Linked DNA regions of Homo sapiens: regions 1, 3 and 4 are each linked to region 2. Evidence: fine-mapped expression QTL. A gene starts in region 2. Each other region holds a variant in brackets. All regions are shown on one strand. Distances are from middle to middle. Region 1 overlaps MAPK8IP3 (mitogen-activated protein kinase 8 interacting protein 3). Region 2 holds the start of MAPK8IP3 (mitogen-activated protein kinase 8 interacting protein 3). Region 3 has its middle 4.4 kb from the start of HS3ST6. Region 4 overlaps IFT140 (intraflagellar transport 140).

What was found. PIP is the estimated chance that this variant, and not a neighbour inherited with it, causes the effect.
Region 1: its variant is the best candidate, but not a certain one, in a credible set for the expression of MAPK8IP3 in cerebellum (GTEx, PIP 0.89).
Region 3: its variant is the best candidate, but not a certain one, in a credible set for the expression of MAPK8IP3 in monocytes (BLUEPRINT, PIP 0.74).
Region 4: its variant is the best candidate, but not a certain one, in a credible set for the expression of MAPK8IP3 in whole blood (INTERVAL, PIP 0.62).

Annotation. Positions count from the first base shown.
Region 1 is chr16:1,736,446-1,743,692 of GRCh38, reverse strand. It overlaps MAPK8IP3 (mitogen-activated protein kinase 8 interacting protein 3), which reads right to left. Exons shown (of 32, transcript NM_001318852.2): 5 at 217-361. Among named protein-coding and RNA genes, the nearest start is that of MIR3177, 5.1 kb to the right of the region's middle. RefSeq lists enhancers at 3,259-3,836, 3,837-4,415. The variant C/T (reference allele first, on the strand shown) is at 3,397.
Region 2 is chr16:1,702,757-1,710,003 of GRCh38, reverse strand. It overlaps MAPK8IP3 (mitogen-activated protein kinase 8 interacting protein 3), which reads right to left and starts at 3,809. Exons shown (of 32, transcript NM_001318852.2): 1 at 3,347-3,809. The coding sequence starts at 3,664. It also overlaps a transcript of JPT2 not described here. RefSeq lists silencers at 3,266-3,315, 3,336-3,445, 3,716-4,055, 4,962-5,256 and an enhancer at 3,614-4,478.
Region 3 is chr16:1,919,235-1,926,481 of GRCh38, reverse strand. It overlaps a transcript of HS3ST6 not described here. Among named protein-coding and RNA genes, the nearest start is that of HS3ST6, 4.4 kb to the right of the region's middle. RefSeq lists enhancers at 5,280-5,574, 5,723-6,286, 6,287-6,848, 6,849-7,247. The variant A/C (reference allele first, on the strand shown) is at 3,588.
Region 4 is chr16:1,537,376-1,544,622 of GRCh38, reverse strand. All of the region lies in intron 19 of IFT140 (intraflagellar transport 140), which reads left to right. It overlaps TMEM204 (transmembrane protein 204), which reads right to left. Exons shown (of 3, transcript NM_024600.6): 2 at 2,547-2,702. Among named protein-coding and RNA genes, the nearest start is that of TMEM204, 7.3 kb to the right of the region's middle. RefSeq lists an enhancer at 1,500-2,202. The variant C/T (reference allele first, on the strand shown) is at 3,340.

The DNA of each region.
Region 1 (7,247 bases), 34 kb before region 2:
AGGCCGCGTGGAACAGCCACAGCCACACAGGGCCTGCTGGGCAGCCTGAGCCCCTGACACCCTGGCTGGGTTTCTCCATCCTGCCACACACGAAGGGAGAGGGCGAGTGGCCCAGAGAGCCGTGAAGGGCTGCCTGCAGACGAGGCTCCCGCCCCAGTGAACGGGGAACACCAGCAACAGGGAGGAGCCTCTCACTCCACGGCACGGCTACAAAACCTGGTAGCTGGAGCTGGACTGCAGCTGGCCGAGGTCACTCAGGTGCCAGTGGTCCCCCGCAGGCACGAGCTTGCCCCCGATCTGTGCACGTACCGTGCCGTCAGCCAGGGGGAACACGTTCAGGGAGGTGGGGCGCTCCTTCCTGCTGAAATGGGGGGCGAGAGGAGAGGAAGCGATGGTTAGAGGGTGGCCGTGAAGATTTCCCAAGCCCTCCCAGGGCAAGCAGACCTCGAGTGATGGGGCCGCTCCATGCCAGCCAGCAGCCCAGCTCGAGCAGCTACTCAGTTATGATCCTACGTGGCGCTTCCCCTCCCATGATGCTGCAGTTTCTCATTTTTATTAAGTTCAATTTTATTTTATTTTATTTTATTTTATTTTTTTTGAGGCGGAGTCTCGCTCTGTCACCCAGGCTGGAGTGCAGTGGCACGAACTTGGCTCACTGCAAGTTCCACCTCCCAGGTTCACGCCATTCTCCTGCCTCAGCCTCCCACGCCTGGCTAATTTTTTTTTGTATTTTTAGTAGAGACGGGGTTTCACCGTGTTAGCCAGGATGGTCTCGATCTCCTGACCTGATGATCCGCCTGCCTCGGCCTCCCACAGTGCTGGGATTACAGGCGTGAGCCACCGCGCCCGGCCTAAGTTCAATTTTAAACAGACACAAGCCGGGTGTGCTTTAGACACCCCACAGCAGAGCCAGCCACGGGACTTGGCATCACGGTCAGCGCTGCACGGCCACCATGAGCAATGCCTTTTAGGACCATTGTCTTATGTGTGCCCAGCCCTGCCTCCCTGTGGTGTTACTGCCAGCCCTGCCTGTTCCCCTGGCGCCAGCAGAGGGAATCCAGCCTTCCTGCCCCTGTGCCTTGTTCCTTGGCCCCTCCTGCCCATCCTCATTACTCCTGTTCATGAGGCTGCCTCACTGCAAAATATCTGAACACGACACATCCAGAGTAAGGACTGACCCCGTCTCATCTGCTGCAGCCGGAGCCTGAGCCTGAGGGGCGTCTTCTCCCTCCCCACGTGTCCTCTCTGCTGTCAGGGAGCCCCGAACCTGAAGACGGACCCTGGGACAGCCTGGCCTCGGACAGCCTGGCAAGACAGTGGGAGCGCCTGGGAGCTGGAGCTGTCAGGACAGTGCTCAGTGCCCCCTGCTGTGGGCTCAGTCCCTAGGGATGACCTCCTGTGGGCCATAAGCAAGAGCAGGGATGGAGCCCAAGGTCTCCCTTTACGTCCTCCTCCGCGGGAGGTTTCCAGTCAACAGCCCAGAGGTCCCAGAGGCCAGGCTGGCTCCTCACCTCCTCAGGTCTGGGGGGCAGGCCACGTGGTCAGATGCTGGAGCCCACACTGCTCAGGGCTATTCAGGACAAGAATTAAGAGTCTGCTTGCACCACAGCCTCAGCTGCTTACATCTCAGCCCTGAGACTGTAGGAGGGAAGGGAGCTTCCTCAGGGGTTCAAGGAACCTGCTCTGGCCATGCCTGGAGGATGCAGACGGCGACAGGGGAACGCAGCAGCCGCCGCTGACCAGGAGCTCCGCTACCTGGGTGGGGAGCTATGAAGAATGACCCTGGGAAGGGGTCTCTTTGTGGGGTGCATACAGCTCTGGGGACTGGCCGCCTGCTCTGTTATGTTCAGGACAACACCGTATCCTGTAGCACGAGGGAACCAGGGCCGGCTGGGACTGGGCTGTGCCATCTTGGCTGCTGGTCCATGGCACTCAAGCTGTTGTGACAACAGCCATGAGGTTCCCTGGCCACCGTGAAGGCAGCCAGCCACCAGGCCCAGGGAGCATGACCCCAGTGGGAGGCTGGGCTTCAACCGCCCTGTCTGCACCAGGGGCCTCCTGGCCCCACTTCCACTGCGCTCCCAACGCTGGTGCGGGGAGCGCCTCTGCTGAGGCCCAGTTCTGACGCCATCAGACACGTCTCAGTCCCTAGACCGAAGCCGATGCGGTCCTGGCTGTCACCAGATGCTACAGGGGACAGCAGGGTCAGAGGGGCCTCTGGTCTCCCAGGAGGCCAAGGGAATGCATGTACGGCTCTCCCACCCACACAGCTCCATGCTGGGCCACGGCTCAGCCAGGCCACCACCTCCGACAGAAATCACCCAGGATCAGGAGCTGCCTTCACTCTTTCCTTTGCTCCTCCCCACCGGCCCCCAGGCCCTGGCCTCAGGCTCGTGAGCGTTTGCCGACTGACCCCGTCCTCCCGATTTGTCCTCGCAGCTCCCTCAGGGGATGCAGATGCTCCCTAGTTCAGAGACCACCACCCCCAGGGGTCACGCCACCCTCGGGGGTCACGCTGCCCTTGGGGGTCATGGGTGTGTCACCGGCTCTGACACAGGCTGGTGAGTGAGGGAGCTGGGCTATGAGTCCAGGTCCGACTGATGCAGAGAGGGGCCCTTCCTTGGCCCGTCGCCCCCCGAGTCAGCACCAGCCCCACCTGATGCACACCCCTCCTTAGCAGGAGTCGGCGCCGTGCCTTCGTCTGTGACCAAGGCAGTGCTTGTGGAGCGAGGGCAGAGTGTGGGCGACCTGGACGGCGCTGCCCAGCTGCATGGCTGTGCAGGGGACCCAGTGGTCGCCACCTTCTCAGTGTCAGTCTCGTGAATGTGGCCAGATGGCCCTTCCGACCTCTCACATCTGCCACAGGAAACACCTCACAGCAGACCAAGCAGCCGCCCTGGGCTGGTAACTGATGCCCTAATGTGCCTGCTGGTCGTCCCCCAGCACCACAGTGGACACACCTCTTGGGTTTTACCTTTTCCTCCACGACTGACGAGGACTGCAGGGCAGCGACAGACACGGCAGCACACGGCAGCGACAGCACAGAGGGCAAGACAAGGAGACAGGCGTTAGAAGGCGTGGGCAGCAGAATGCGCACACGCCACATGGATGGTCAGCATGTGGTGATGGCACAGAGGGCGAGACAAGGAGACAGGTGTTAGAGGGCGTGGGCCACAGCGTGCGCACACGCTCATATGGACGGTCACACAGATGCTCACACGGACGGTCAGCATGTGACGATAAGGAGACAGGTGTTAGAGGGTGTGGGCAGCAGCGTGTGCACACGCTCACACGGACGGTCACACGCTTACACGGACGGTCACACAGACGGTTGCACGCTCACACGGAGGCTCACAAGGACGCCTACACGGTTACGGATGATCACACGGATGCTCA[C/T]ACGGTTATGCGGACACTCACACGGACGGTCACACACTCACACGAACGGTCACACAGATGCTCACACGGACGGTCACACGGAAGCTCACACGGACGGTCACACACTCACACGAACGGTCACACAGATGCTCACACGGACGGTCACACGGAAGCTCACACGGACAGTCACACGCTCACACGGACGGTCACAGGGATGCTCACACGGACGGTCACACGGATGCTCACGCTCACACGGACAGTCACACGGATGCTCACACGGACGGTCACACGGATGCTCACACGCTCACACGGATGGTCACACGGATGCTCACACGGACGGTCACACGCTCACACGGACGGTCACACGGATGCTCACACGGACAGTCACACGGAAGCTCACACGGACGGTCACAGGGATGCTCACACGGACGGTCACACGGATGCTCACAGGCTCACACGGTCACACGGATGCTCACACGGACGGTCACACGGATGCTCACACGCTCACACGGATGGTCACACGGATGCTCACATGGACGGTGACACGCTCACATGGACGGTCACACACGGACGGTCACACACACACGGTCACACAGATGCTCACACGGACGGTCACACGGAAGCTCACACGGACGGTCACTCACACGAACGGTCACACAGATGCTCACACGGACGGTCACACGGAAGCTCACACGGACGGTCACACGGAAGCTCACACGGACGGTCACACACGGACGGTCACACACACACGAACGGTCACACAGATGCTCACACGGATGGTCACACGGAAGCTCACACGGACGGTCACACACTCACACGAACGGTCACACATGCTCACACGGACGGTCACACGGAAGCTCACACGGACGGTCACACGGAGGCTCACACGGACGGTCACAGGGATGCTCACATGGACGGTCACACGGATGCTCACACGGACGGTCACACGGATGCTCACACGGATGCTCACATGGATGGTCACACTCTCACACGGATGGTCACACACTCACACGGACGGTCACAGGCTCACATGGATGCTCACACGGACGGTCACACAGATGCTCACATGGATGGTCACACTCTCACGGACGGTCACACGCTCACACGGACGCTCACACGGACGGTCACACGGATGCTCACATGGATGGTCACACTCACACGGATGGTCACACACACGGACGGTCACACGCTCACACGGATGCTCACACAGACGGTCACACAGATGCTCACATGGATGGTCACACTCACACGGACGCTCACACGCTCACACGGACGCTCACACGGACGCTCACACAGATGCTCACATGGATGGTCACACACACGGATGCTCACATGCTCACACGGACGGTCACACAGATGCTCACATGGGTGGTCACACTCTCACACGGACGCTCACACACATGGATGCTACACGGATGGTCACACAGATGCTCACATGGATGGTCACACTCACACGGACGCTCACACGCTCACACGGACGCTCACACGGACGGTCACACAGATGCTCACATGGGTGGTCACACTCACACGGACGCTCACACGCTCACACGGACGCTCACACGGACGGTCACAGATGCTCACATGGGTGGTCACACTCACACGGATGCTCACACGCTCACATGGATGCTACACGGACGGTCACACATGCTCACATGGATGGTCACACTCACACGGACGCTCACACGCTCACACCGATGCTCACACGGACGGTCACACAGATGCTCACATGGATGGTCACACTCACACGGATGCTCACACGCTCACACGGATGCTCACACGGACAGTCACACAGATGCTCACATGGATGGTCACACACACGGACGGTCACACGCTCACACGGATGCTCACACGGACGGTCACACATGCTCACATGGATGGTCACTCTCTCACACGGTCACACGCTCACACGGACGCTCACACGGTCACACGGATGCTCACATGGATGGTCACACTCACACGGATGGTCACACACACGGACGGTCACACGCTCACGGATGCTCACACGGACGGTCACACAGATGCTCACATGGATGGTCACACTCACACGGACGGTCACACGCTCACACGGATGCTCAAATGGATGGTCACACTCTCACACGGATGGTCACACACACGGACGGTCACACGCTCACGGACGCTCACACGGACGGTCACACAGATGCTCACATGGATGGTCACACACACGGACAGTCACGCTCACACGGACGGTCACATGGATGCTCACATGGATGGTCACACTCTCACACGGATGGTCACACACTCACACGGACGGTCACACGCTCACACGGATGCTCACACGGACGGTCACACAGATGCTCACATGGATGGTCACACGGACGGTCACACGCTCACACGGACGCTCACACGGACAGTCACACGGATGCTCACATGGATGGTCACACACACGGACGGTCACACGCTCACACGGATGCTCACACGGACGGTCACACAGATGCTCACATGGATGGTCACACACACGGACAGTCACGCTCACACGGACGCTCACACGGACGGTCACATGGATGCTCACATGGATGGTCACTCACACGGATGGTCACACACACGGATGGTCACGCTCACACGGATGCTCACACGGACGGTCACACAGATGCTCACATGGATGGTCACACACGGACGGTCACACGCTCACACGGACGCTCACACGGACAGTCACACGGATGCTCACATGGATGGTCACACACACGGACGGTCACACGCTCACACGGATGCTCACGGACGGTCACACAGATGCTCACATGGATGGTCACACTCTCACACGAATGGTCACACACTCACACGGACGGTCACACGCTCACACGGACGCTCACACGGACGGTCACACAGATGCTCACATGGGTGGTCACACTCACACGGACGCTCACACACTCACACGGACGCTCACACGGACGGTCACACAGATGCTCACATGGATGGTCACACTCTCACACGGACGGTCACACACTCACGGACGGTCACGCTCACACGGATGCTCACACGGACGGTCACACAGATGCTCACATGGATGGTCACACTCACACGGACGCTCACACGCTCACACGGACGCTCACACGGTCACACGGATGCTTACATGGATGGTCACACTCTCACGGATGGTCACACGCTCACACGGACGGTCACACGCTCACACGGATGCTCACACGGACGGTCACGGATGGTCACATGCTCACACGGACGGTCACACAGATGCTCACATGGATGGTCACACTCACACGGACGGTCACACGCTCACACGGACGCTCACACGGACGGTCACACGGATGCTCACATGGATGGTCACACTCTCACACGGACGGTCACACGCTCACACGGATGCTCACACGGACGGTCACACGGACGGTCACACGCTCACATGGACGGTCACGGATGCTCACATGGATGGTCACTCACACAGACGGTCACACACGGACGGTCACACGCTCACGGATGCTCACATGGACGGTCACACACGGACGGTCACACGCTCACACGGACGCTCACACGGACGGTCACACGCTCACACGGACGGTCACACACGGATGGTCACACAGACGGTCACACGGATGCTCACATGGATGGTCACACGCTCACACGGACGGTCACACGCTCACACGGACGCTCACACGGTCGGTCACACGGATGCTCACACGGACGGTCACACGCTCACACGGACGGTCACACGCTCACACGGACGCTCACACGGACGGTCACACGGATGCTCACATGGATGGTCACACGCTCACACGGACGGTCACACACGGACAGTCACACGCTCACACGGATGCTCACACGGACGGTCACACACGGACGGTCACACGCTCACACGGACGCTCACGGTCACACGGATGCTCACATGGATGGTCACACGCTCACAC
Region 2 (7,247 bases):
AGCATCAAATGCCGAATGATCAGCAAACATCACCATCTGGGCTTGTTGAGAGAACACCCACTCCAGCTGCCTGCCATGAGCCTGGGGGGTGTTACCAGCAGCAGTTTCTTTAGGGTTAAGAAGATTTTAAGGCAAATAATGACCACTAATATTCACATGTCATCTCTCACACCTTATTTTTCCTCTTGTAAGCTAAGCAGTTGATCACTATGGGAGAAGGGCTCTTTGCTGCCCGGGTAAGCCCGGCAAACGTGGTGGCTCTGCCCGGCCCTCCTCTGGAGCTGCACCGGACGGTGCGTGTGGAGGCAGCATCTGCTCCTTGCCAGCCCCCACCCCGTTCAGCTGCTGTTTCCCACCTTCTTCTTTTCCACTGGGAAATAACTTGAGGGTTTTAAAAAACTTTGTATCAGAGCCTGCACAACCAGAAACTGCACTGTCTGGTAGGCGGCTAGCAATGTCCGGTGCCTGCCGTCCACGGCGGCCCTGAGAACCCGTCAAGGGTTCTGCCCTGACTCTGCTACATCTGCCTGCCCACAATTCTCCAGGCAACCAACAGCCAGTGATGGTGCTTGGATCTTGAGATGAAACTGACTTGCAAAGTCCGCGGCCACTGCAGCCCAGCGAGGGGAAGAGGATGGACCCAGGGTGTGTGGCTCCTGAGGGCCGGGCTGACACTCAGGCTGGGGTCTGCAGACTCCACGGCTTGGGTCAGTCTCTCGGGAGACCCCACCCTCTCTAGCTCCTGTCACTCTCATACACTCAGCTGCCTGTTATCAGAGCACATTGGGAGTCACTGTGGTAATGACCGGCAAGAAGATGGGAACAGGGATGTCTGCTCTGCTCAGGTTTTTATAAAACCCTGCGGATTCTGTCTGCTCAGAAGCTGCAGTGGCTCAGGTTACCCATCTCTGACTAAGCCTTCTTGAGCAGAGTGGCTGGGGACGGAGCTTCTGCTGACAGCTCACCCAGGAGCTCCTCTGCAACAAGACACGCCTGCAGCGTGTGACGTCCCGCTCCCCTCTTATCAGACACACGTCTATGTGATCACAAGTCCCTGCCTAGAAAAGACGCCGACCCACAGGGCACAATGGTCTACAAAGTTGGAAATGAAGGTCTGCTTGATTCAGTAGAGGAGTAGGCATGCCAAATGTTGACAGCATCGAGCCCTCTTCCTTAGTTGTAAAGCCCTGAGGTCTTTCCAAGGGCGCCCCGTTAGCGTTTAATCATAGCCTCCATGCTGGCCAAGCATTGGCTGGCTTCGGGGCTCGGCTCCCGAAGCTCTCGGTGCAGCTTCTCTAAAGCGCTGGGGCAATGGTGGGTCTCAGACTAAAGGTGATAGCTTTGCAAACCACACGCACACCCGCCAGCTTGGTTCAGCAGGAGCCCTGGGGGAGGGCAGATGCACTCACAGCAGCTTGCATGTGAACCGCACAGAGCTGGGCAGCGCCTATCCTGTGCACAGCTCATTTTTAAGCGGCAAGGTTATAATTCCTAGCCTTAACGTTGTCCATCTTGATTTTCTCCTTTCAGTTCCTTCTCGTCCACTATACTGACCACACAGGTACAAGGTGAAAAAAAGAAACCCACCTGAAATCCAGGTCAGGCCACTGAGTGTGGGAGAGCAGTGGAGGGCGGTGCCCAGCACAGGGGGCAGCCACAGCTCCACAGCTGAGCGAGGGCAGCCCTGGCACTCCAGGCTTCTGGGGAGCAGCCCTCCGGTGCCTGCAGCTGCCTGACATGGAAGCAAGTGCCCAGGCCGGTGTCGGGTTCACTCTGCATCCTGGCTGGGCACTTCTGGGGTGGGTGACCTTGGTTCAGCCCCTCCACTTCTCAGGACAAGTTTCCTTCCCAGTAAAATGCCTATAGTCACCCTGAGCTCCAAAATCCATGAACCTTTGCGTTCCCTTAGGTTGAGAGCTTTAACTCAGCTTTGCTGGAACCGGGGCATTCCAATCAATGCATAACCACCTCGCGACAGACACGAAGCCCAAACGCAATAGAAACCACAGGAAAGGAGGAATGATACAACATACTGTTATGATTTTTATAAACACGCTTTAAACCAAACTAGGCCATAAATCACCTTGGTTTCAGAAAAAGCCAAAATACTGACACAATCTTTTATTTTCCTATTAAAGTCAAGAATGTGTTAAGCCGAATTAATTGAAAAGGAATTGAAGCTCATTTCCTAAGACACTTCTATTCATAAGTCAAACAGCATTACCTAACTCCTAGAATGAGAGAATTTCTGGGCTTGGAGATCGCCTAGTGCAATTCACTCCTTTGATGGAAAATCGAACCCCAGGCAGGCGACAGGCCAAGGTCACAGAGGCAAAGCAGGGATGGGAACCAGCCTCCCTGAACCTGTTTCTGACAAAGGGCGAGGTTCTGGGCCCACACACAGGCAGGCCGAGCTCAGTATCTGACGGTGAATGAATGAAGCTAAGTGGTGCTCCCCACAGGGCCCGGCTCTTGTAACTGCTTCACAGACAAGCGATTTCCAGGTTATGGAGACATCCTAGCACAGAATTAAACGCTTCAAACTCAGACTGTTAACTCCTCAGAAGCCAGAGTGGAGTTTCTCAGCCCTGGCTACATCAGCTAACAATCTCGCCAAGCAAGGAACCAAGGGGGCAAAGACATCACCTCCAGAAACTCGAGTGTTCCTTCTGCTGACAGAGGAGCAGCCCGCCTGCGGCCTTGTTCTGTGTTTACATCAACCACCCAATTCACCCGTGTCACAGACCTTCAAAATACGGGATTAGGGACAAGGGAAAGGTCTCCAACATCATCCACAGACGGCTGCAGCCCCCTAAGAACACCAAAAGATTCCTTTTCTAGATGGGTTTAGAATGGCAGCCAACAGAGGTAGCACTTGGGGTCGGGAAACGGTTTTGACTGAACACACGCACGAAAGCAAAGGCAATTGTCATGCAGAGGTGGGTGGGGAGGGGAGAGTGAGGCCTGGCTTTGAAGCTGAGCTCCCCGGGGATGACGCCAGGCACATCGGGTTTGGGGCTGAAGATTCAGGGCTGGGGGCACGGAGGAGGGGGCCAGGGCCCAGGCCTGGGCGGAAAAGGGGGTCCCCGGGAGTCGGGGTGGGGTCCCGGGGCAGGCGGGGGAGTGCTCTAGGGAGGTGTCTCACGGCGGGCAGAGGGGGTGGGGAAGTCCCGGGGCGGGGGATATGGGGTCCAGGCGGGTCTCGGGGCGGGGTCTGGGGGTCCAGGGGTCCCGCGGTCCGGGGTGCCGGAGCGGGGTCTGGGGTCGGGACGGGTGTTGGGTCCGGGGCCCGGGGCTGGCTGGGGGTCCGGGACGGGGATGCGGGCGGGTCCCGCGGCCCACGCACCTCCTCCGCCTGCCTGCGCAGCGCCTTCTCACGCTCGTACTGGGTGAGCAGCTGCTCGTTGTCCTCGCGCAGCAGCTCCAGCTCCACCTCGTGCTCCTGGTTCTCGCTGAGCACCGAGTCTAGGTTCTCCAGCACGTTCACCACCAGCGGCATGAGCTCCTTGACCACCTCCTCGTCGTAGCAGTGGATGAGGCGCTCGAACTCGCGGTAGATGGAGCCCGCCAGGCCCGACACCCGCTCCGACATCACCGAGCCGGAGCAGTAGTCGTCCTGGTACACCACCACGCCGCCGCCCTCGTCCATCTGGATCTCCATCATCGCGGCCACCGCCGCCGCCAGCGCGGCTCGCTATCCGGCCGGCGCGCCCGGCCCTCCCCAGCTGCCTCAGGTTCCGCAGGCCGCAGCCCGTCGCCTCCCGCAGCTGCTGTCGCCTCAGGGCTCCGCCGCCGCCGCTGCCGAGGCTGCGCCCGTCACTCACTCACCGGAAGTCCCGCCCTCCAGCCGGAGGGGGCGGTGCCCGCGCGTCCCGCCGCAGCCGCGCCGCCAGGGGGCGCAGGGGCCGTGACGTCAGAGGAAGCCGGGCTTCGGGCCGGAAGCGCGGGTGAGCCGGGCAGAGGGAGCTCCCGGCCAGGCCGGTGGGATCCGCGGGGCGGCAGTGGTCGCTTCCCCCAGCGCGCTGTAGCTTGATCATGTCCCCGCAACCGTGGGCTTCCGGTGACCTCGATCCCGTCTCCAGGCTCTGCACACTTCGGCGGACTTAGGTGAAGGCTCAGCGCCTGCGCCTCAATCCCGGCCGCCCTGATGAGCCTCCGTTCCCTACAGCACCGCGCCCCGCTCAGTGCCTCCCCTCTCCTGATGCCTTCCCCGCTCAGCTGGCTCCTCCCGGGATTCTGTGAATGCACCCTCAACGCCCATCTCATCCTGAAACCCAGCAGCGTGGCCTCCTTCCTTTCGCCCACTTCTCCCTACTGCACTGACTGCTTCAGATTTTCTTTTTTTTTTTTTTTTTTGAGATGGAGTCTTGCTCTGTCGCCCAGGCTGGAGTGCGGTGGCGCGATCCTGGCTCACTGCAAGCTCCGCCTTCTGGGTTCAAGTGATTCTTCTCCCTCAGCCTCCGGAGTAGCTGGGATTACAGACCAGCTAATTTTGTATTTTTAGTAGAGACGGGGTTTCGCCATGTTGGCCAGGCTGGTCTCAAATTTCTGATCTCAAGTGATCCGCCCGCCTCGACCTCCCAGAGTGCTGGGATGACAGGCGTGAGCCACCGCGCCAGTCCAGATTTTCGGTTACTTTTCAGCTACGTGCAATCTGTTTAACCCATCCACTGGGTTATTAATTGCACCGATTTTTTTTTTTTTGAGACGGTGTTTCGCTCTTGTCGCCCAGGCTGGAGTGTGATGGCGCGATCTCGGCTCACTGCAACCTTCGCCTCCTGGGTCCAAGCGATTCTCCTGCCTCAGCCTCCTGAGTAGCTGGGACTACAGACACGCGCTATTAACGCCCGGCTCATTTTTTTGTATTTTTAGTAGAGACGGGGTTTCACCATGTTGGCCAGGCTGGTCTTGAACTGCTGACCTCAAGTGATCCACCCGCCTCCCTCGGCGTCCCAAAGTGCTGGGATTACAGGCGTGAGCCACTGCACCCTGCCAATGATTCTGTTTTTGTCCTATTTGATTTCTTATATTCTAGCAGTTTTAATAGGCTCTTATACTTCCAACCACATATTTATCTTTAAGCGTTGGGTGTGCCTCATAACTACAGTATCTGCAGCCCTTGCAGGTCTGATTCTGCATGTCATCCTGGTTGACTCTTGGCCCAGGGTCCCCTTTCCCCCATTCTGAGCCAGTGTCCCCAGGACTTTTGTCTCTGGAAGTACTTGAGGCCTGAACTTAAAATGTGTTGCTCCGTAAGATTTGCACTTTATTTTGCTGGGCAGGGGACACCATGAACCCAAGACTTTGAAACTCAATTTGGGAGCCACACATGTATTGTGAATCCTGATGAAACCACATCAGTGACTATTTAATGCTAATAGAAATGGCCACTTACCGTCTTTCACCTACTGCAATGCTCATCAGTTCAGATCCTCTCATCCTAATCTGATTGCACCGAAACAGTAACTCCCGTAGCTGACACCCTACTGATTTTTTTTGTTGTTCAGTTTTTAGAGGCAGGGTCTCACCCTGTTGCTCAGGCTGGAGGCACTGGCATGATCAGGGCTCACTTGAACTCTTAGGCTCAAGTGATCCCACCTCAGCCTCCTAAGTAGTTGGGTCTACAGGTGTAAGCCACCACTGCTTGGCCAATTTTAAAAACATTTTTGTAGAGACAGAGGTCTCACTGTTACTCTGGCTGGTCTTGAACTCCTGGCCTCAAGCGATCCTCCCCCTTGGCCTCCCAAAGTGCTTAGATGACAGGTGTGAGCCACCATGCCAGGCTCTATTGTGTTTTTCACATTTTCCACTTGCAACATAATTTGCCGTATACATGTTCAACCATCCCACTAAGAGGTTTCATTCAGCCTCAGATTCCAATTTCCTGGGATCCCAAGTGACTTAATTTTGCCAAATCTCCATTTCTTTTCTTTTCTTTTTTTTTTTTTCCTGAGATGGAGTCTCAGTCTGTGGCCCAGGCTGGAGTGCAGTGGCACCATCTCAGCTCACTGTTACTTCCGCCCCCCGTGTTCAAGCCATTCTCCTGCCTCAGCCTCCCGAGTAGCTGGGACTACAGGCATGTGCTACCACGCCTGGCTAATTTTTGTAATTTTTAGTAGAGATGGGGGTTTCACCATACTGGTCAGGCCGGTCTCAAACTCCTGACCTCAGGTGATCCACCCACCTCAGCCTCCCAGTGTTGGGATTACAGGCATGAGCCACCGTGCCTGGCCCCAAATCTCTGTTTCTAAGCCTGCAAAACAGCCTAAAATATCCAGCCTATTAGGAATGTCAGCTAATCCATGAAAGGAGCATGGCGCCATCTCCAGCAAATAACGTGCGATAAAGGTTACGGAGAGTTGTGAGGTTCCATAAAGTGAAAATGATAAGGCTGGGCAAACAGATGTAATCTATAATTCTTCCTGGTGAACAAGTTAGAGCAAGCTTGCATTTTGGGGGATGTTTAAAGCTTCTGCTTTATACCTTTGAGAAACTTGAGCCCTTTGAATTCCTGAGGTAGCACACTACAGTAGGAACAATGCTACCACAGGGAGAGGCCAACAGACTTGGCCATCAACTCAATTGATTAATTATCACTACCATGATTGCACAGATTTGTTACTTTAAGTTGGTTAAAATGAAATTTTAACAAGGTGCTGGATAATTCTTGACACTTATGGAATCATACAACTGGTCTTCTCCTGAAAGTTGGTGCTGAATTAGAACTGCTTACAGCTGGGCATAGTGGCTTACACCAGTAATCCCAGCACTTTGGGAGGCCAAGGAGGGAGGATCGCTTGAATCCAGAAGCTTGAGACCAGCCCGGGCAACATAGTGAAACCCAGACTCTACCAAAAAAAAAAAAAAATCAGCCAGGCGTGGTGGTGCATGCCTGCAGTCCCAGCTACTTGGGAGGCTGAGGTGGGAGGATCACTTGAGCCTGGGAGGTTGAGGCTGCAGTGAGCAGATTGTGCCACTGCACTCCAGCCTGGGTGACAGAATGGCTCTGTCTAAAAAAAAAGAAGAACGAACTTCTAGTAACAGAGGAGTTGACTTCCTTTCAGATTCAGAAATACTATTTGGGATGCAACTTTTTCTCACTAAAATACCTTAAAATGTAAGATGGGCATTAAAATATAAAATGTAAGTTTCTAAAATTCAACTTTAATTTCTAAGTATCTGCCCTGATGCCTGCTAAGAAGCCACACAGTTCCCTGTGATGTTCCTCTCATCTTCATGAGCTGAGT
Region 3 (7,247 bases), 220 kb before region 2:
GGTTGACTTTGAAGGCTGTGAAGCCTAAGAGGGGCGAGGCAGGGGTGGGGGTTGGGAAGAGGAATTTAGAGCTCTCGGCCTGACTGCAGGTTCTGAGTCCTCCTGAGCGTTGAACCGAGTAAGACAGGCCACATGCCTGTCTGGTCCACTGCGGGGGTGAGGTGCTGCCCCCGGAAGTAGGGCAAATGGAGGTGCCCTTGCTGGGGATCCTGTCTGCTGGCCAGGGGGGACTAACTCTTCAAAAGGGGCTTACAGGCAGGCGCGCACGGTGGCTCGTGCCTGTAATCCCAGCACTTTGGGAGGCCGAGGCAGACGGATCACCTGAGGTCATGAGATCGAGACCATCCTGGCCAACATGGTGAAACCCCATCTCTACTAAAAATACAAAAAATTAGCTGGACATGGTGGCACATGCCTGTAATCCCAGCTACTCGGGAGGCTGAGGCAGGAGATTCACTTGAACCTGGAAGGCGGAGGTTGCAGTGAGCCGAGATCGCGCCATTGCACTCAAGCCTGGGCAACAGAGCGAGACTCCCTCTCAAAAACAAACAAACAAACAAAAAACAGAAGGGGGCTTACAGGCTCCAAAAGTGGTGTGGGGTGTCACTTGGGGCTTTCCACACTGTGTGAAGGTGCCTGGGGCCTGGCTGCAGGCCTCTGAACCCCCCTCCACCTGTGCCCACGTGCACACTCACAGAAGATGTGTACACTCACCAGGGTCCACAGACAGGCACACAGAGTCCCATCTCCTGTGCAGCGCATGGGACTCCTGGGCCTGTGTCCAGTCCCCTTGCTCCTGACGAACATGCTCCTGGTGGCCTTCCAGTCCATGGAGACCATCGACAGGGCTGGACAGACCTGGCCACAGAGGACTCTCTTGGGGTTGATTGAACGCTGCTCTGCCCTCCCCACAGGGCTGGGAGACTTCCATGCCCAAAGGCCTGGCTTAGGGCTATGAAACTGGAGGAGGTGGGGCTGGGGGAGGGCAAGGAGAGCCCTGTTTCTGTGGGACCCTCCTCTTGTCCTGTTCAGATCCACCCTGGAGATAGAGGCACAAATGGGACTACCAGCCTGGAAGAAGGATTGCTACATTGTTTTTTGTTTTGTTTTTTTGGAGACAGTGTCTAGCTCTGTCACCCAGGCTGGAGTGCAATGGTGCAATCTTGGCTTATTGCAACCTCTGCCTCCCAGGTTCAAGCGATTCTCCTGCCTCAGCCTCCCAAGGGGCTGGGATTACATGCACGAGCCACTGTGCCCAGCTAATTTTTGTATTTTTAGTAGAGACGGGGTTTCGCCATGTTGGCCAGGTTGGTCTTGAACTCTCGACCTCAGATGATCACCCGCCTCAGCCTCCCAAAGTACTGGGATTACAGGTGTGAGCCACTGTGCCCGGCCTGATTGCTACATTTTTATAAATTGAACTGGCCAGGCTGGTGGGCAAGAGGCAGTTTGCAGGGCCCAGTTATTCATGGAGGTTGGGGGAGGGAACAGGAAAGAGTAGCAAATCGCCTTCTCTCTGTGCTGATTCCTCCAGGAAGACCCAAGGGAGAGGATTGAGGGTGGCTGGAAGCAGGCTGGGGCCACCCCTCTGCAGGAGAGGATTCTGGCTCCTCTGGCAAACCCTGCAACCCCAGGCAGGCTCCCAGCAGGCAGGGGACTGAAGACAGTGGGGAAGCGTCCTTCCCGATGCTGGGAATCTGGTCTGCCTTGGCAAATCCTGGGAAGCCCCACAACCCTTCTCTGTCACAGTGTCCCTGGGTCACCAGGAACAAGATCCAGGGTTCGGCAAGCCAGGCTTGCTTGCCACCGTGAGGCCAGTGATGCCTTTGTGCTCCAGCCTTGTCTGCAGGGAAGACGGAATTATGAGATAGGTCCTCAGTTTCCCCAGCGCGGGAGCAGCCTCCGAGCACCCCTTCTGTGGCCCCTGCCGCACGTTCTCTGGGTCCTTGTCGTAAAGAACATTCACCAAGCACTTAGGAGCTGGGTACAAAGGGAGGTGGGGGTGAGTGTCAACTTTGTTTAATACAGTAGGGAAGTGAGGATCACAGGCCTGGACTCCTGCTAAGGTCACCCGCTAGGAGGGGGCAGAGCTGGCTGGTTTTTTTTGAGATTGGGTCTTGCTCTGTGGCCCAAGCTGGAGTGCAGTGGTGCAATTATAGTTCACTGCAGCCTTGACCTCCTGGGCTCAAGAGTTCCTCCCACCTCAGCCTCCTGAGTAGCTGGGACCGCGGGTGTGCACCACCATGCCTGGCCAATTAAAATAGTTTTTTTTCTTTAGAGATGAGATCTCCCTATGTTGCCCAAGCAGGTGTCAAACTCCTGGGCTCAAGTAATCCTTCTACCTCAGCTTCCCAAAGTGCTGGAATTACAAGCGTGAGCCACCACGCCCGGCCACAGTGCTGGCCTTGAATCAGCCTTGAAGGTCCCTACAGCCTTTGCTGTTACCGTTGCCCCATCCTAGCAAGGGGCTCCTGCCCCGCCTCGGTCCCCACCAGGGTGAACTGGGAACAGCGGGCCCTCGGGGAGGGTAGGATGGGGGACTGGCCTCTCTGAGGGGCCCCTCCCTGGGAGGGAACCACATCCTTTATGAGCTCGGGCAAATCAGGCATCTGAAGTGGAAAAACCCCACACAAATCAAGGACAGCTGGGCCCGCCCTCTGGCGGCAGCCCCCTCCGCTTGCTCCCCTCGCAGGAATCCTGGCAGGAGGCACGGAGCGGGGCAGAGCCAGTCTCAGGGATGAAGGGTGTGGTTCTCAGGGAGGGAGTTCCTGGAGCTCCTCCTGGCTGTGTGAAATCTACCCTAGCTGTCTTCGGCGGAGGGCGGGGCCGCTAATCACTTTCCAGAGTGGGGCCGCGGTCCTGCCCTCGCTTGTGAGGGCCCAGGCTGGGGCTGCCCACCCCGGGGAGGGGACAGACTGGGAAAGAGGTGGAGAGGGGTGTCAGGGAGGGACACACACAGACACACACACACAGTCACTTAGTTGCTCAACAAACATGAGCTGTCATCCTGGTCAGGCGTGGAGCCACAAAAGGGATCAAGACTGACCCCGTCTCTGCCCTTGTAGAGATCATGGGTAGGTGGAGACAGGGATCAAAATCACCCACAAAGAAATAGTTACAGACTGTGAAGGGGGCACAAATGTAGCCAGGACGCTGGTTGAGGATCTGACGCCGGGCAGGGCATTCCTCCTAGCACGGCCTTGCTCCCCAGGACTCCCCACCTCTTCCCCTCTCCATCCCCTCCTGCCCTGGCCCTCCTTGTCACCTCTCCAAGGGACAACGTTTACTGGGCCCAGCAGCTGGGGCAGCACAGCCCATCTCCCCTCCCAGATCCTCTCCTCCCAGCCACTACATCAGGCCGACCATCCACATGTTCGTCAGCTGGAGGGTGGACAGACCATCTGCCTGGCTGTCTGGCTTATACAGGGGTCAAGATGAGCTCGGGCAGTGTGGACCCTCAAAACCCCTGGGGCCTTGGGAGATCCGGCTAGGCAGAAGGAACTTGTTGATGTCTGTTTCTTGGCGGAGGAGGACATTCAGACAGAGAGCAGGAGGCGAGGGACCCTCTCAGGGTGCAGGGACAGCCC[A/C]CACCCTTTGTCCCTACAGTCTGGTTGCTCAGGTGTCCTGGGGCAGAGGGAAGGAAGTTTGTGTGTGAGGAGCATGGAGAAGAAGTTCCTGAAATTATCAGATTTAACCTTCATAAGGCACTCAACACAGAGTTACCATATGATTGAGCAATTTCACTCCTAGGTATATTCCCTAGAGACATGAAACGTATGTCCACTCAAAACCGTATACCTGAATGTTCATGGCAGCGTTATTCATAAGAACCCCGCAGTGGAAACAACCTAGATGTCCATCAACGAATGAGGGAATCAACAAAAGGTGGTCCATCCATACGATGGAGTATTACTCAGTCAGGAAGAGGAAGGAGGTACTGGCACATGCCACAGTGTTGATGAACCTGGAGAACATGCTGAGTAAGAGACCCAGACACAAAAGGACGAACATTGTATGATTCTCTTTTTTTTTTTTCATTTTAGAGATGGTGTCTCACTCTGTCTCCCAGGCTGGAGTGGAATGGTGCAATTTCAGCTTCACTGCAACCTCTGCCTCCCGGGTTCAAGGGTTTCTTGTGCCTCAGCCTCCCGAGTAGCTGGGACTACAGGCGTGCACCACCACACCTGGCTAATTTATTATTATTATTATTTGAGATGGAGTTTTGCTGTTGTTGCCCAGGCTGGAGTGCAATCGCGCGATCTCGGCTCACCACAACCTCTGCCTCCCGGGTTCAAGCCATTCTCCTTCCTCAGCCTCCCAAGTAGCTGAGATTACAGGCATGCACCACCACACCCAGCTAATTTTTTGTATTTTTAGTAGAGACAGGGTTTCTTCATGTTGGTCAGGCTGGTCTCGAACTCTCAACCTCAGGTGATCTGCCCACCTCGGCCTCCCAAAGTGCTGGGATTACAAGTGTAAGCCATGGCGCCTGGCCCACACCTGGCTAATTTATGTATTTTTGGTAGAGACAGGGTTTCACCATGTTGGCCAGGCTGGTCTCGAACTCCTGACCTCAAGTGATCCACCTGCCTTGGCCTCCCAAAATGCTGGGATTACAGGCATGAGCCACTGTGACTGGCCATATTTCTTTCTTTCTTTCTTTCTGTTTTAGAGATGGGCTCTCACTCTGTCGCCCAGGCTGGAATGCAGTGGTATGATCATGGCTCACTGCAGCCTCGTACTCCTGGGCTCAAGCGATCCTCCCACCTCAGCCTCCTGAGTAAGCTAGGACTATAGGTGCATACCATCACGCTTGGCAAATTTTGAAATTTTTTGTAGAGACTGGTACTCCCTATGTTGCCCAGGCTGGTTTTGAATTCCCCGCCTCAAGTGAACCTCCTGCCTCAGACTTCCAAAGTGCTGGGACTACTGGTGTGCGCCACTGTGCCTGGCTAAATTTAAAATATTTTGTACAGACGGGGTTCTCGCTTTGTTGCCCAGGTTGGTCTTGAACTCCTGGCTTCAAGCAATGATTCTCTTTTTGTGAAATGTCCAGAATAGGCAAACCCATAGAGACAGAAAGTAGATTCGTGGTTGCCAGGGGCTGTGGGAAGGGGAGAAGAGGGCGTCATTGCTAATGGACACAGGATTTCTTTTTGGGGTGATAGAAATGTTCTAAAATTGATTGTGATTGCACGACTATGAATATACTGAAAACCATTGATTTGCATGCGACAAATGGCTGGATTGAGTGGTGTGTGAATTACATCACAATAAAGCTGTTACTCTTCAGAGACTCATGCGAGTCATGACTGAGGTCTTCATTTTACAAAGGAGGGTCTGGTGGCTCAGAGTTGGTGGGAGCCTGAGGAGGAGGCGGGGCTGGACCAGCCTCAGGCCAGACTCTAAGCCCCGCCCCTGTTCCCGCAGGGCCTTAAGCTCCACCCCATCCTCTACTGCCCGGGCTCTCTGCTGCTGAGCCTTCACCCACACGGTTCCTTGGCCTGGAATGCTGTTCTCCTCGTCTTCACCTGGCCGTCACCTCCAGAAAGCCTTCCCGACCTCTCCTCCCACGTATACCCTTCCACTGAGCGACATTAATGGAATGTCCACTGCGTGCCAGGCTCTGTTAGGTGCTGGGGATCCACTGGTGAATGAACAGCCCCAGTGCTGCCATCCTGGGCGCCCCGAGGTGTGTAGCCACCGTCAGCCGAGTGCCTGATGGAGGGAGGGGTCAGCTTCCAGGAGAACCCTCCGAGCCGACTCCTGGTCCCTGCATCTCTCTCTCCCTGTCCCCAGTCCATTCCACATCCTGCTGTTCTGCGTTCTGGTCAATTCCTCCTGGAAAGTCCTTCTGCCCTCAGCGGGGACTAAGGATAAAGCATCCAGCAGAGAGACGGCAGCGGAAAGGCCAGGAGATGGAAATGACCATGCTGGGCTGGGCAGGGGGCTGGAGGAGCCATCACGGAACCAGTGCTGGAATTTCAAGTCCTGAGTAGGGACTGCTGAGACCGTGGGGATGGCTGAGACTGTGGGGACGGCTGAGACCGTGGGGATGGCTGAGACCGTGGGGACTGCTGAACCTGTGGGGACTCCTGAGACCGTGGGAACAGCTGAGACCGTGGGGACTCAGACCGTGGGGACGGCTGAGACCGTGGGGACTCCTGAGACCGTGGGGATGGCTGAGACCGTGGGGGCTCCTGAGACCGTGGGGACTGCTGAGACCGTGGGGACTCCTGAGACCGTGGGGATGGCTGAGACCGTGGGGGCTCCTGAGACCGTGGGGACTGCTGAGACCGTGGGGACGGCTGAGACCGTGGGGACTCCTGAGACCCTGGGGACGGCTGAGACCATGGGGACGGCTGAGACCGTGGGGACTCCTGAGACCCTGGGGACAGCTGAGACCATGGGGATGCTGAGACCGTGGGGACTCCTGAGACCGTGAGGACTCCTGAGACCGTGGGGACTGCTGAGACTGTGGGGTGGATGCTGCAGGGTGGGACCCCAGCCCCCACCCCGAGCCAGCCCGTTGGGAACAATACCGTTTCAAGCTAGACCAGAAGAAGAATTTCCTGTGACCCAGCATAAGCCAGCATGCTCTCCTCGCATTGTGCCCGCTGCCTGCCCACGGGGCTCCTGCAGAGGCTTGCCCAGATGAGCAGGTGCAGCCCGCATGTCTGGAGCCGGGGCTGGGGGACTGGTCAGTGGTCTTCACCCCGTCAGCCCCGTGTGGCCCCCTCTGGCCAGGGCTGCTGCTGGGTAGGAGCTCCGGAATGTCTGTGGGTCGTGGAGGCCTTCGGCCCCTTGAGGCAGCCCGGCTGCTGGGACTTGTCCAGATGCCATCAGGGCTGGAACGGCTCATTAACGCAGCAGAGCCCAGGACAGGGGCCGCAAGCCCTTGGCTGGGAAGAGGCTGGGCCTCTGCCGGGAGCCTGTGCCGTGCCTGCCTGGCGCCAGCCCTGTGGCCAGGAAGGCTGGGGCAGAGGTGGAGAGAGGACCCGGGTCTCATACCACCTTTGCCTTCGGATGGGGCAAGTTGCTCGCCCTCTCTGAGCCCGGCTCGCCTCCCCTGCCTTCCCTGCAGGCTGCTGCTGGGCGTTGGGGATGTGAAGTTCCCGCAGTGTCTAGCGGCCCCCGCAGGTCCCACCCGAGAGGCCCCTGAATCTCACGCCCCTCAGAGGCAGCCCCTGGGGGAGGTCCTGGGCTCCTTCTCTTCCCCAGCACAGGGGTCCCTGAGTCCTTTGTAC
Region 4 (7,247 bases), 170 kb after region 2:
CGCAGTAGCACACGTTTGTAATTCCAGCACTTTGGGAGGCTGAGGTGGGTGGATCACCTGAGATCAGGAGTTCGAGACCAGCTGGACCAACATGGTGAAACCCCGTCTCTACTAAAAACACAAAAATTAGTGGGGCGTGGCCAGGCGCGGTGGCTCACGCCTATAATCCTAGCACTTTGGGAGGCCAAGGTGGGCGGATCACGAGGTCAGGAGATCGAGACCATCCTGGCGAACATAGTGAAACCCCATCTCTACTAAAAATACAAAAAAAATTAGCCGGGCATGGTGGCGGGCGCCTGTAGTCCCAGCTGCTCAGGAGGCTGAGGCAGGAGAATGGCGTGAACCCGGGAGGTGGAGCTTGCAGTGAGCCGAGATTGTGCCACGGCACTCCAGCCTGGGTGACAGAGTGAGACTTCGTCTCAAAAAAAAAAAAAAAAATTAGTGGGGCGTGGTGGCAGGTGCCTGCAATCCCACCTACACGGGAGGCTGAGGCAGGAGAATCGCTTGAACCCAGGAGGCAGAGGTTGCAGTGAGCCGAGATTGCGCCACTGCACTCCAGCATGGGTGACAGAGCAAGACTCCATCTCAAAAAAAAAAAAAAAAGAAATGTAGTGATCCATTGGGTTATCTTACAGAAGGAGTTATTTTCAGAATCAAAAACTATTGCTTTTGCTTTCTCTATGCCGCTAAAATATCTTTATTCTGACCCAGCATTTCCAATTACATTTTCAAAATCTTCCATTTCCTTCTTTAAGCCACGGCATTTCCGATTCCTGCACGCGGTAGAGATTGGCCATTTCAGTGAGACAGGAAAACCACTTCTCTGTTTTATGGCCCTCGGGTCAGCAGAGGGCCCCGTGGGAGCTTTCCTAGCCTGGGTACCTCGTTGAGAGTCTCATGTTTTCCCTGCAGTCATGCAGGAGGGGAGGAGGCGGAGTCAGTCCTAGGTCCCACATCCCTGTCTCATTCGTTCTTACAGTCAGTTGGGTGGGGGCAGAAATTACCCTTTTCGAAGTTGGGCATGCAGAGGCTCACGTTAGTTTAGTCATCTGCCTGACCCCACGTCGATGGTGATGGAGCCAAGACACAGCTCCAGTTCCAGGCTCCACGCCCTGTGCTCTTCCACTGAAGCCTCGAGGCCCCTCCCTTCCCGCCCCTACCCGCCAGGGGAAGTGACTTGCCCAGGGCCACGCCATGCTATTAATAGCGCTCAGAGAGCCCGGCCTGACTCGCTCAGGGCACTTTCCAGCACAGGAATACCTGCCCCCACAGTCTGTCAGCCTCCTTCTGGAAATTGTATTTCTTAAGAAAGATAAGGGCCCAGGATCATTATTCCTAGAATGATTCACTCTGGACTTCCTGCCACTTCCTCTGTGGGAACTGCAGGGCAACCTGCAGAACGCTGCACCGGCCTCGAGGAGGAGAAGGAGGGTGCGGGCAGCTCCGTGCTGGTCATGCTCAGCCATGGGCCGACATGCTCGCTTTCTCTGTGTCCCTGTCTCTGCGGGCACCGGGCTGACCTGTCCCAGTGAGCAGCAGGAGACCTGAGCCTGCCCCAGATGCCCACAGTCTTCAAACCTCTCAGTCAGCCACAGAAGACCAGCAGAGCCCCCTGGGGTCGCTGGGGGTCATGGCTGGACACTGCTGTGGCTCAAGCACTTGTCTAGAACACCGCAGGACCCTTCCATAGGTCGTTGACGACAACTCCATCACTGTCACCCTCTATGACGCCAGGTCTTCTCAAGACCTGTCCCAGGTTGCTGGGTCTAGAGCGTTGAGAGGAGGCTCTGAGCACCAATGGCCCCTCGCCTGCAAGGCCGGGCCTCCTCCCCAACTCACATGGCGGCTTGGGGAAGCCAGGGCCTCGTGATGGTCCTGCCGTCTGCATCAGTGTCCGAGCCAGGCACACAGCATGTGCTCGTGCAGGCACCTCACTGTCGGCTCAGGCAGTGTGGAACGTGCTAGCGTGTTCTCACTCTGTCTTGTCCCGCTCACGGAAAGGGCCTGCGCTGACCCCAGGCTGACCCCAGGCAGGTCCTAGGAAGCTGCGTTTATAACAGAGCACATGCCTTGGCCTTCCTAGGCCTGACCTGTTCTAGGCCTCTTAGCTGGGAAGGTCAGGGCCAGGCATGGGCTCTTCTGCCTCTGCCCAGGGGCTGCTCCCCACCAGCTGCCTCAGCATTGAGGAAGGGGCAGGACCCAGGCTGCCCCATGTGGACTGCACAAGGGCCAGTCAGCAATCAGACCCCACAGACTCAGGAAAGCAAAGTGCCTCAGCCTTTAAAGTGGAAAAGGGTGTGACAGACACGCCAGGTGGTCGCAGCCTCCCTGCTCCTTGGCCTGGGTGTGTTTCTGTCTTTCATCATTCTTGCCTACAGCAAGAGGGAGGGAGGATGCCCCATGGGGCTTCTCAGTGGCCTGTGGCCATGTTGAGAGGTATGGCCTGCAGCTTCCCCCCAGGCCACCCAAGGCCTCAGGACCCTCCTGTGGCACCAGAAGGCCACAGGGGGCAAGGGCGCGGTGGCCACACCCGCCCAGGTACTTACTCGCCAGTTGGAATGCAGCGGCCATGGCCTCCTCCCAGCACGGGGCGTCGGGTGACAGCAGGGGCAGGCCCACCAGCCCCAGGAGGAAGGTGAGCTGGCCTGCGGTGAGCGCGGCCGTGGCCACCAGGTTGCAGGCGCGCATCATGTCGAACTGCACTGTGGGCCAAGAGCAGAGAGGCAGTGGTGAGTGCAGGTGGGCTCCAGAGGCCACGCCAGCCGTCACGCCACTTTCGTGGTCTCTGTTTGCCTCGGAAAGGGCGGTCGGCACAGGCTGTGCCTCCATTGGGCAGTGGCTTCGGGAAGCATCACGCCCTCCCCCTCACCTGCCTGCAAGCCCTGGGTCCCATGTCTTCCTGATGGGAAGGGTTCATCCCAGCCGCCGGGCCTGGCTGCAGTGGTCGTATCCCTGCAGGGACGGGCCCTACTCTGCTATTTCTGTCTTCCTGAGACAGCTGTTCCTCTCTGCCTGACTTGACCCTTGAAGGCGCTGGCGTGGGGGTGGAGGTGGGAAGGGGAAGCCCACCAGCAACACCGGCTTCCCTGTCACTGAATTCACAGCATCCAAGACGAGGGCGCTGCCTGACCGGAGACTCCGCGGGGGGCCAGCTCCTCAGGCGTGCTGTCCTGCGTGCTCAGCTGCCCGACCCCCAAGCGGCTCATGGTGGTGTTCCCTCCTCCCAGCAGCTGAGGGACTTGGGACCGAGGAGAAGCAGCTCATCTGGGCCCCTCATAACCAGCAAGGGGCTGAGCAGGGGTCAGACATGGGTCTGAACCAGTGCCCCCCACCTGCCCC[C/T]CTCACCTCCTGGGGCCCCGTCACCCCATCTGCCACAAATCTTTCACTCAGTGGCTTAAGTCAGGGCCTGCTTCCCCACTCACAGCAGGCCTGTGCCCAGCCTTCTCTGTCCCCCACCTACACCTGGTTGCAGGAGCCAGGTGGGCAGGGCACATGGATGCGTGGTCAGGGGCAGATGGAGCCTTCTGTGAGTGAACTTCAGAGGGAGGTGCGTTTGTTGCCCTCAGGGACCAGGGCTCGTCACGTTTCTGTAGCAGAGAAATGTTCTCCCGCAAATAAAACCTTACACAGGGGCCCAAATGAGGTGGTGGTGAAGCAGTGTGTTCCCAGGCCCCTGCACGCTGCAGAGCAGACAATGTGTGTGCTGACAGACACTCAGCCTGGAGTCAGGGACTGCATGTGAAGCAACAGCCCCACAGAGTCCCTAGCCTGTCATCGCCATGCCTTGTTTTCTATTGAACAATATTTGGGAAATTCGATTCCCAAAACTAAGTCGTTATAAACAGTTGCACCTTTTTAAATGACTTGCCTTGAAATTTCAGGGCACTCTTCAGGTAACTGATGCAGGAATCTAAGAGGGAAGCAGCCTCACCACTCAGGAGCGGGTCCCCGCGCCCGCATCCATCACAGACACCAGAATCCAGGCTCAGGAGCAGGTCCCTGTGCCCGCATTCATCACAGACACCAGAATCCAGGGAGCAGCAGAATGTCCCAAGAGCCCTGAAGGTGCTGGCCTCTAGGGTGACTGCTGTGTGTCCTGGGTGGAGGCCGAGAGGGGATGGGGAGATCCTCAAGCTGCCTCCTCAGAGCACGCCTGTGGGAAGCCAGCCCAGCAGGGGAAGCTGTCGAGGTTCACGCGTGCACGGGGCAGGCACGCTGGCATCAAGGCTCAGGGGTGGTGGGGGATGCGGGCTGCTTTACTTCGTGAGTGTTTACGTGGTTAGAAGTATCCGTTGGAACCACTATTGCCAGTATTAGCAATTCCACACGGTTCAACCTCAACATTTATTGAAATGCAATCTGGATTCACAGAATAACCTCAAAGCTCTGGAGCCGAGGCATCTGCTTCCCACCTGGCCCTTGGGCTGGGTGCTGCTCCAGCGCTCACATCTGCCCCGGCCCCAGGCTGAGGTGGTGTGTGGGATCGTCTCAGTCTAGGCTTTCGGCGTCCCAGCATCCCTGGAGGCACACTGCTCCTCGCCACTGAGGGTCCCCCCGCCGTCCTACCCACTGTATTTCAAGCTGCTTCCCTCCACAGCGTCCCCTCCTGTCACTCGGGGCGGAGGGAGCTCTCCTTCCTGGATGCCAGGCTTTTCCACTGTGCCCGCTCCGGCCTGGGTGGCGCCCCCAGCCCTGAGACCTCCAGGGTGTGAGGGCAGTGCGCAGAGAGTGGAGGCATGAAGGACCCTGGGGCACGGGGTCCCCGGGCTGCTGAGGAGTCTGAGCAGCCAGCACATGGCACCATGAGCCTTCCGCTGGCAAGGGGGAGAGCGGAGCACGCTGCCTGCCCGCAGACAGGCAGGCACCACTGACAGGGCCATGGGAAGCGGCAGCAGCTGCCCCTCGCTCATTTTTCTCGCAGCAAAACAGACACCCCAGTGAGCGTCACTGCCACGTAACTGAGAGCTCACGTTCCTTCATCTCCAAAGTAACTGCAGAGTTAGAAACCATAGCGCTCCCGCGAGGTTCTCTCTAAAGAAGGAACAGAAGACGCGGGGGCTGAGAGCCAGCCTGGTGGCCAAGGGGTTCCCGTACGGACAGCGGGAAAGCCTGGCAGCAGGTGAGGACCTGGCTCAGCATGGGCATAGGTGGCCGTGGGGCCAGAGTGCTTGGAGGAAGGGGCAGAGCCCAGGGCACTGGAAATGCCAGAGGACAGCAGAGATGTGCTTGACCTCAGCCTGGCACCGTGCAACTTGCTGAGGCCTAAGGCGTGGGGCGGCATTTGCACCATGTGGCTTGCTGAGGCCCAAGGCATGGGACGTCACTGGCACTGTGCGGCTTGGTGAGGCCCAAGGTGTGGGGTGGCTTGGCACCGTGTGGCTTGGTGAGTCCTGAGGCTTGGGTCGGCGTTGGCACCGTGTGGCTTGGTGAGGCCCAAGGCGTGGGGCGGCGTGGCACTGTGCAGCTTGGTGAGGCCTGAGGCGTGGGGCCGTCTGGCACTCTGCAGCTTGCTGAGGCCTGAGGTGGGGGGCCATCTGGCACTGTGCAGCTTGCTGAGGCCTGAGGCGTGGGGCCATCTGGCACTGTGCAGCTTGCTGAGGCCTGAGGTGGGGGGCCGCGTGGCACCGTGCAGCTTGGTGAGGCCTGAGGTAGGGGGCGCTTTTGCCCTGGGTTTCTCACCTGCCCTAGGGCCTGTGCAGATGGGACCAGCAGGAGCCAGGGTTGAGGCAGACACTGCCCTGGCTGACTGGCAGGACCTTCCTGACTGCTCCAACGGACTCCACAGCCAGCCCCAAGCAGTGACCACGTACAGCCTGCAGGGACCGGAGTGAGGCCTGCATTTTGAGGGCGTCCTGTCCACACATTAGGGACGTGTGTGAGCTCTGGAGGCCCCTTCCAGCAGGATCTGTGGCACGGTGCTGTGCCATCTTTGCTCTTAACTGTCTTGGCAATGACTTCCATTCAGAAGCCTCTGCTTCTCTAAACATTGCAAAATGAGGGAGGCATTAAAACATCACGCAGAAGGTCATGTTCGAGAGAGGAGCAGCTCAGATTCCCTGCCCAGGGCTCTGCGCTCTGCCCTGGAGGGGAGGAAAGACCAGAATGAAGGGGGAGGAGGGATGCAGAGCTGCCCTGGGAGGAGCATAGCCCAGAATGGCATGACCGAGGTGGGCTTGAGCACCAGGCACAGCTGCACGTGTAGTTGTGGTGAGGGTGAGTGACCAAGGTTCCTGGGAGCTGGGAATAAGCAGACGCACCCCTGACCTGTCCTCTCGCCCTCAGCCCTGGCCTCTCAGCCTTCCTTCCTCGCAGCTCCAGGCACACAGCCCTGTGCCACACACCATGGCAGGGGCTCTGTGCAGCAGCCGTGCCCCACAAGCCACTCTGCAGCCTCCAAGTCCCCAGGGTGCATGGCTCACCACAAGGGCACCCACAGACCCACCGCCCTGCCAGGAAGGAGGCACTCCTGCCCGAGCCTTCCTGTCTGAGCCACGCTCCCGCCTGCCCCAAGAAAGCTGTTTGGAGCTGGCGTTCACTGCTTGGGTGTTATACGGGTTCCTGGGGTGCTGCCTGTGTGCGTGGCTCTGCGTGGCTCTGCGTGGCTGTGCGTGGTAGCAGCTGACTTTTAAAGGTGTCGGTGAGAACGTGGTTCAGCTGGGTCCTGGCCGAGCAGGGGGTGAAGCCCGGGAGCTCTGTCCTCCACCTGTATTCAGGCAGGGTCTTACGTGCCCGTTTGATGTGTGGCGGGGCATGCGTGGTGACGGAGCCACGTGGAGCCACCGGAGAGAGGGGTGGGGCTCCCCCTCAGCTAGCGCCAGGCTCTGGCTCGCCTGCCTCGAGATTCAATCACACGGTCATCTGTTCCCAAGCCACCTTGTTTCAGATGCCTGACAGAACGCACGAAATACAGAGAGATGACGTAAATATCCAAAACGAGACGAAGTGAGGAGGAGAAATTGAGACCCCCTCTGGACATGGCATGTGAGGTGGACCTCAGGCCTCCCTGGTCCCCCGAGCTCCTCACAGGGAAAGAGCACCCCTGATCCGTAATGAAAGTCCCACTCACCACAGGCCACAGGACACCCCTGGCAGGGGCACGGGAGGGCCTGAACCTGGATGAAGTCGAGACCGGGCTCCTCTGCCCTGGGTCCAGCCCTCTTTGCCCTGACCAGAGTTCAGGATGTCCGGGGCGCGTCCCCTGTCCCTCAGGCAGGCTCCTGGTGATGTTTGCGAGTGACGAGCGCTGG